Regions from separate parts of the Homo sapiens genome. Here all the other regions are linked to region 1. The links come from fine-mapping of genetic effects on gene expression. A gene starts in region 1. Each other region holds a variant in brackets. All regions are shown on one strand. Distances are from middle to middle.

The links. PIP is the estimated chance that this variant, and not a neighbour inherited with it, causes the effect.
Region 2: its variant is fine-mapped to the expression of SPAAR in visceral fat (GTEx, PIP 0.91).
Region 3: its variant is fine-mapped to the expression of SPAAR in subcutaneous fat (TwinsUK, PIP 0.95).

The regions. Positions count from the first base shown.
Region 1 is chr9:35,907,924-35,910,689 of GRCh38, reverse strand. SPAAR (small regulatory polypeptide of amino acid response) reads right to left here and starts at 1,200. Exons shown (of 2, transcript NM_001348107.3): 1 at 1,126-1,200; 2 at 1-533. The coding sequence starts at 226. RefSeq lists an enhancer at 1-528.
Region 2 is chr9:35,929,500-35,932,265 of GRCh38, reverse strand. No RefSeq gene overlaps it. Among named protein-coding and RNA genes, the nearest start is that of SPAAR, 21 kb to the right of the region's middle. The variant T/C (reference allele first, on the strand shown) is at 1,103.
Region 3 is chr9:35,885,325-35,888,090 of GRCh38, reverse strand. No RefSeq gene overlaps it. Among named protein-coding and RNA genes, the nearest start is that of OR13J1, 16 kb to the right of the region's middle. The variant GTTTT/T (reference allele first, on the strand shown) is at 1,414.

The sequences.
Region 1 (2,766 bases):
ACATGAAGGTCCAGAAGTCCTGGGCACTTGGCACTGGCTGGGCATGGCGAACAGGCCCCGTGAAGAGAGAAGCTTCCTGGCGAAACGTGGCCACCGTGAAGCTGCGGCCAGGACCCCCCTGAGGATCCTGGGCCCTTGAGTCACAGCTGAAGCAGCAGAGGACGCAGGTGATGGCCACAGTCACCACGAACAGCACCACCACCACCCCAATCACTGCCGTTTCCATGGCCCACTGAGCAACCTTAGGTCCTCTCGGAGCCTTCGCTCCCATCCAGAACAGGAGGCTCTTCGCGATCGCAGGTGCCCCGTGCTCCTCCGGCGGCTCTCCTTCCGTCTCCTAAGAAGATGCTGCTCTGAGTCCCTGGGTCGCTCCTGCTCCAGGCCTTCGGGCGCTGCCACGTGGCCCCACTGCTGAAATCTCAGATGATCTCTGTCTATTTTCTAAGCCTCAGGCCATGCCTCCAAGAGCTGTGGTCAGCTCCATGTCAGCTTCTAGAAGAAGCACTGTCCTGGAAGACGTGAGCACAGATTCCCTGGACACAGAGAAGGTGGAGAGGAGGGGTCAGAAGACGTTGCACAGAGACAGCCTAGCCAGCGCTGGCCCTCCGGTGACGCCTACAGATTTCAAGAGCAAGTTACGCCCAGACCAAAGACAAAATACTCCCCCTACTATGGATGCAGGAGGAGCCCGGCTCCTCCCCAGGAGGGACCTTGGGCCAGTCCTTCAATTGGCCTATCTGCTGCCTCCCCAGCCCCTGGCCCTGTGCTGGGGGCAGGGACATGAGGAGGGAGGAAGGCATGCGCCAGCTCTGGGCAAGGCAGGGGACACTCACGGGTCACCCCAGGTGCCAGGGCCTTTAGTGGGGGCTGGAGGCAGGGGCAGGTTGCATTTGGCGTCCTTTTCTGCATGGCGCTGGGATCATGCAGTTTAGATAGAGTATCAGGTGCTTCCCCGGGAATCCCTGCCCTGTCCATGACCGTGGGGCTCTTTACCCGGAGGTCCCGGAAGAGCCTTCTTAGATGCCGGCCTCACCCACCCTCTTTGCTGCCTGCTTAGCCCGTTGCTCACATTCTTGAACTATTAAGATTTACCCTGGGCTCCCCAAAGGCCAGCCCTGGCTGTACCTGGTGCTGCAGCCTCCTGGCCTGGTGGCCGTCCCAGGGACCACGGCGTTCCTCCCTGGGTGCTGCAGCCTCTGTCCTGGTTGGAACTTGGCTCCGAGATGTCTGAGCAGCTGTGAGCACTTCCTGAATTCTTTCCTCCAATTGTGAGCGAGGGCCCAGGACCCACACTGCAGCCCTCCAACCCCCGCTCAGCAGTTATCCCGTCCCGCCATGCGCACCCCAGGCCTTTTCCACCCTCCTCCCTGCCAGGAGGTCAGGGGAATAAGCTAGGCCCAGGCAACTGAGTTAGTCTGCCAGGTGAGAGCCCTTTCACACCCAGCACCTCCTGAGACCCCCACCACTTCCAGAAAGGAGACTGGGCTATTAGCCCCACTTTGTCCATATTCTGGGAAACAGAGTAGTGAGAACAATAACTCCAGGCATGGGACCTCACCAGACATGATCTCATATAACCTCCCCAGCAACCCTGCATAGCGATATAGCCTCCATTTTATAGAAAAAGATCCTATGGTCATAGAAGTTAAATGACCTGCCCCCCATTCTGAATTAGCCATGTTAACAGGCACGAGCAATGGCCGAGGAGGGACCGCCCTCCCTCCACTCCTAGCTCAGTGCACTTTCCAGTTACCATGGGACCACAGAGCGACCATCTGATTCTGCGGTTTTAATGATCTGGGTGCAAAGTGCCAGAAAGGGCAGAGGGCTGGCCCAAGTTCACATAGCCTGGGTCCTTTTCAGTTTCTCCAAGGCCCAAGGGAACTTTCTTTAGTATCAGCATTAGGAAACTGGCACTTTGCACAGAATGGGAGAGCAACTTTTCAGAGCAAACGATAGCCTGTCATATTCTCAATCTGTCCCTTTTCTGAGATGATGAGACCATCTGGGCCCTGGGCTCCTCCTCCACATGGAGCAGGCTGTGGGCCATGACAGGAAGCCAATTCCTTGGATTGTTTGTATTAACTGGGATGACCAGGAGGAAGGAGACGACGGGCTGATCTGCAGGGCCTGTGGTTTCAGGTTGAGTTACCAACATCACCTCCTTAACTGGGGTGATAGAGGGCACCAGGAGACTATGCCTCAAGCTTTAACATTTGTTCCTTTGATTTCTCATCGCCTATTCTTCCTGTGTACACGCAGCCATAGGCCGCCTGCAGATTGTCTGAGTGGTTCCGCATTTTTGAACTGGAATAAAGGGCAATTGCTCAGCGGGTTCTCTCCTGCCCTGCATAGGCTTCCTTTTCCGTTTCCTGCTTTCGGGGAACCTCCTCCCCATCTTTGATTCATCTGTGAAATCAGCCTGGAGATGCCTGGGAAAGGGGCAGGGCTGCAGGGAGCAGGCTGGCAGGAATCCAGGAGGGGGATGGAGGGGGCTGGGCTAGGCAGGGCATGGGAATGGAGAAGGGGGTGGATTTGAAGGACACTGCAGAGAAAATCGACACTGCACGGCAGCCTAGGGTCAACTTTCCCAACCCAGAAACCTCAGGTGGGAGAAATCAGTGTGAATTTGCCTCCCTCTCTCTCTCACTCCCTCCTCCTGCAGCCCTCACAGAGAATCCACTGGGAAATAGAAAGGAAAGAGGACATTCTATTCCAGTGAGTCACCAGGTCCCTGAGTCTCTGGCCTGCTCTCCAGCCCCTCCC
Region 2 (2,766 bases), 22 kb before region 1:
CCTATGTTGCCCAGGCTGGTTTTGAACTCCAGGCCTCAAGCAATCCTCCTGCCTTGGCCTCCCAAAGTGCTGGGATTATAGGCATGAGCCACTGCATCCCATCTTTGTTTCCTTTTAAATGTGTTTTATCTTTGATTTTACATAATAAAAAGAAAATAGAAAAATGAATAAATATTTTCATACAAAATACAGCAAGCACTACCATCAGTAGTGCTTGAACAGTTCAAGTATGACAATTTCTGTAAGCCCACATGTCCCCCTGTCCCTAAGAACCAGATCACAAAATCCCGGGCTGTGATTTCAGCAGGGCACCCTCCGCAGCACATCCCAGCTGGTTTTCTACACTCATCTGGCATCCTAGGGACCACTGCATGTAATTCCAGCCCCTTTGGCCAAATCCCAGGAGCTTTCCCACAGAAAACAAAAACGCACATAAATTGACAAAGCAGCCACCCTTTAGCAATTCTAAGACAATCTAGGCTCAAAGTGCCCTAGGTGGGTTCATAAAGATTAGATATGTCATGTTTGCGTTCACTGTTTTTTCTTTTCTATTGCCTTGAAAAATAACAGGCAATACTCGGTTACTTCTAAAATGTCAAACCCCACGGAAGTAATCTAATTCTTGCACTGTTTCCCATGCACCCACCCACCACATAGATCTCTAACCCAAAGCAAGCACCATGAGCAAAGAACTGAGGATTCTGTGGGTCCTCTGACCTGGGCCTCCCAGGATACCAATCTTCCAGGGAACTCACCCGTATATAGTGACCTGGCCATACTGAGAGCCAACCCCTTCTGCGTTCATATATCTAAGGCAAATTATCTGGTCAATGAGCTACACACAGCAGTAAATGTAGCCGGTAAGACCCTGACTCGATGGGGTTGTAGCCAAGAGGAGAAGGTGACACTGAATAGGTAACTAACTGTCAGTGTGATGAGTCCCATGAAGGAGTGTATAGATCACTTTAGAAGCTTAGCATAGGCTACGTACTCTAGCCTGGGGTGGCAGTGGTCAGGGAAGCCTTCTCCGACAAGAAGCAGAATAAGGGGATCAAAGTTACAGCTCATTGTGGAGAGGAATCTTCCAGTGAAATGGCCTGAC[T/C]CAGAAGGTGTCTAGACAGAAGACAGAGCACATGTGGGGGATGCTAGGGAGGACATTTCCTGCCCTAGGTGGGTTGGAAGGATGTAGAGGAGCAAAGTCATCAAGAGCACAGGTTCAGGGAACAAACAGCCCTTAGGTCCCTTTCACCTTCGTCACTTACTAGCCACAGAAACAGACAAGTTGCTAGACCTCAACATTATGCACAGTTTTAAACATACACAAAAATAGAATAATTTTACTAACAACCATGTTCTATTCATCACTCAGCCTCAGCAATGACCAACCCATAGCCAACCTTCTTCCATTTATAACCTTATCCAACTTCTCCAACTCCATCATTAATCTGAGGCAAATGGCAGACACTGCATCATTATACCCATAAATATTTTATTATACCCATTAAAAAGGTATCTCTAGAAGATGACTTCTTTTAACATATTGCACAATACTATTATCATGTGTAAAATGTTAGTAGTGTCTTATTATCATCAAATATCTAGTCATTTCTAAATTTGAAAATTATAATTGTCTCATAATGTCCTAATGTTTTTCTCTCTCTCTCTCTTAATGGTATCTTTGTTTGAATTAAGATCTAAATAAGGTCCTCTCATTGCATTTGGTGCTTTGCCTCTTTAAGCCTTAATTTCCTCATCTAACTGAAACCCCTTACCATATCCTTAATTTCAGAAGGGCAAAGCTTTAACCATAACTGGAGAAGAGTGTCTGTCTGAGGATTAGCCAGGTAGTCACTTGCAAGAAATTCAAGGATTCTTTCCTTGGGTTCCAGTTGCCTGTTGCAATGTCCATAGCATCCACCATAGAGGAAGGATTAGGGGTGGGTCCTGTGCCCTATTCAGGTTGCCCCTCATGTTCCTCAAAGGTCTTGGCAACCTTTGTTCTCAACCCTGGCTGCTGCCCAAGCAGTTGCCCCTCTTTCAGTCTACCTGGGATCCTCTTTAGTCTTCTTCCTTCACTACCAAGCTCCAGCCCTAAGCCTCGTGGGCTCTTTAAACTCTCCCTCCGACTCACCTTTTCCTACTGGGGACTTCTCCTTCTCCCTTGCATGTGTCCATGGTGGCCAGTCACTGGGTTCCATCTTGTTTTCTCCTGAATGGAGATGATTTCAAATGGGTGAACACAAAGGAGGAGATGAAAGAAAACAACCTAAGCCTCAAGCACCCAGAGACAGTCAGACTTTTAGCACAGCTCCAGTGATTGCCTCGTAGTACATCACTTAGATTTACGTTATTATGCCCCCAGCATCTCTGTCTCTCTCTGAGCTTTGAGTTGTCTTACAGAAGGCAAACTTTTGTTATCCCAGCTTCGTGTGAATCTCACTCATCCCAAAAGCAGGAGTTGGTGTGCGTCAGGCCTTACGAAAGGGAAATTCTGCCATATAACAATGAATTTAATAACTCCAACTACACAGGTAGATATTGGGTGGAATTCATGAACAAAATGGTGAACAAAATGAGTAAAAGGCATCAATCCTGACACTTGTGAATTTTCACTAAATATAACTATAAAACAAGTATTATTATCAGGTGATCGCTGAGGTCTCTCCCATCTAACTACCAACCCTAAGGCACGAAGGAGTCGGGACTGGGCTCACATGTCGTGGACGCTGGAAGACCCACCTCCTAGGGGACCCTGGACACGATGCC
Region 3 (2,766 bases), 23 kb after region 1:
GAGGAATGGCATGAACCCGGGAGGCGGAGCTTGCAGTGAGCCGAGATAGTGCCACTGCACTCCGGCCTGGGCGAAAGAGCGAGACTCTGTCTCAAAAAATAAATAAATAAATAAAAATAAAAATAAAATAAAGTTTTGTGCTCCAAATACACCATTAAGAAGTGAGAAGAGGCCGGGCATGGTGGCTCACGTCTGTAATCCCAGGAAGGGATATTCTGGGAGGCTGAAGGTCAGGAATTCAAGACCAGCCTGGGCAACATGGTGAAATCCCATCTCTACTAAAAATACAAAAATTAGCCAGGCGAGGTGGCATGTGCCTGTAATCCCAGCTACTTGGGAGGCTGAGGCACAAGAATCGCTTGAACCCGGCAGGTGGAGATTGCAGTCAGCCAAGATTGTGCCACTGCACTCCAGCCTGGGCAACAGAGTGAGACTCTGTCTCAAAAAAAAAAAAAAAAAAAAAGTGAGAAGAGAATTCAAAGAATGGAAGAAAATATTTGCAAATAATATATCTGATAAGGGGCTTATATGTAGAATATATAACTCTTACAACTCATTAATAAGAAGACAAACAACCCAACTTAAAAATAGGCAAAGAACTTGAATAGACATTTCTTCAAAGAAGATATAAAAATGACCAATAAGCACATGATAAGATGTTCAACGTCATTAAGCATCTGGTTGCAAATCAAAGCCACAATGAGATACCACTTCACACCCATTAGGATGACTAAAATCAAAAAGTCAGGTAGTAGTAAGTATTCACAAGGATGTGGACAAGTCAGAAACCTCATACTCTCCTGGTGGGAATGTAAAATTGTGCAGCTGCTTTGGAAAACAGCCTGGCAGTTCCTCAAAAGGTTAAACATAGAGTTACCACATGGCCCAACAATTCCACTCCTAGATATACACCAAGAGAAATGAAAAATGAAAATCTATGTTCACACAAAGACTTGTACACAAATATTTATAGCAGCACTATTTGTAATTGCTAAAAGGTGGAGACAACCCAGATATCTATCAACTGATAAATAGATAAATAAAATGTAGTATAGCCGGACAATGAAACATTATTCAGCCATAAAAGGAATGAAGTATTGATACATGCTAGAACATAGATGAACCTTAAAAACAGCATGCTAAGTAGAAAATCAGTTACAAAAAATCATATATTATATGATTACATTTATATGAAACGTGAAGAATAGGCAAATTTGTAGGATCAGAAAGTAGGTTAGTGGTTGCTTAGGGATTGGAGGATGGGGGCACAGGAGGATAGCTACAGGGTACCAGATTTCTTTTTGAGGTGATGAAAATGTTCTAAAATTGCTTGTGGTGATGGCAGTTCGACTCTGTGTATATGCTAAAAGCCTATGAATTACACTCTTTATTTATTTGTTTGTTTGTTTGTTT[GTTTT/T]TGAGACAGGGTCTCACTCTGTTGCCCAGGTTGGAGTGCAATGGCGCAGTCTTGGCTCACTGCAACCTCCGCCTGCCCGATTCATGTGATTTTTCCCCCCTCAGCCTCCTGAGCTGGGATTACAGACCACCATGCCTGGCTAATTTTTGTGTTTTTCATAGAGACAGGGTTTCACCATGTTGGCCAGGCTGGTCTCGAACTCCTGATCTCAGGTGATCTGCCCACCTCAGCCTTCCAAAGTGCTGGGATTACAGGTGTGACCCACTGCGACCAGCCCTGAATTGTACACTTAAAATGGCTGAATTGTATGGTATATCTAATAAAGCTGTTCCCAAAAAAAACAAAAAAGAAAATATAACAAATTAACTTGAAAACCTAGATGAAGTAGAAAAAGTCCTAAAAATACGTAATTTGCCTAAACTGATTTGTGATATGATAGAAAACTTATAACCATTTAAAAAATTGTCAGTAGTTAAAATCCTCCCACAAGGTGAAGACTAGTTGCAAATAGGTCCAACTTGCACAAACTATCCCAGTATAGAAAAATATTATAAGCTAGCATAACCTTGAAACCAAAACCTGACCAGACCCTATAGAAAAGGAAAATTATGACACAACATCCTTTATGAATATATATGTAAATCCTGAAAACATATTAACAAATTAAATCCAGGCGTGTATGGAAAACCTTCTAAATCATGACAAAGCCAGATTTCTTCTGGTAATACAAGGGTGATTTACCATTAGAAAATCAATTGACATAATTCATCATATTAAAACAATAAAGAAGAAAGACTATATTATCATCCCAATAGATGTGAAGACTATTGGACAAAATTTAACATTCATTTTTGATTTTAAAACTCTTAGAGAAAAAAAACCAAATGAAGAACAGTAATATATTATGTCTTCATTTGGGTGAAAAATAAAGGGGGAATGTGTGTGTGTGTGTGTGTGTGTGTGTGTGTGTGTGAGATGACCCTCGTTACAGTGTCCAGAGCAGAGAACTAGGTTATGAGGTGACATGAGTGGAAGGGAGAGTTTGTCTACATATCCTTTTCTGCCTTTTGAATATTGTGCCGCAAAAATGAACAGACTATTAAAAATAAATTTTAACTTAACAATTAAATTACATTTGTAAAAAATGCTTAGCAAATTAGGAATAGAAAGAAACTTTCTTAATCCAATAAAGAATATCTAAAATCAAACATCATTCTTAATATTGATATTTGCAGCTGGGCATGCTGGCTCATGCCTGTAATCCCAGCACTTTGGGAGGCTAAGATGGAAGAATCCCTTGAGCCCAGGAGTTCAAGACCAGCCTGAACAACATGATGAGACCCTGTCTC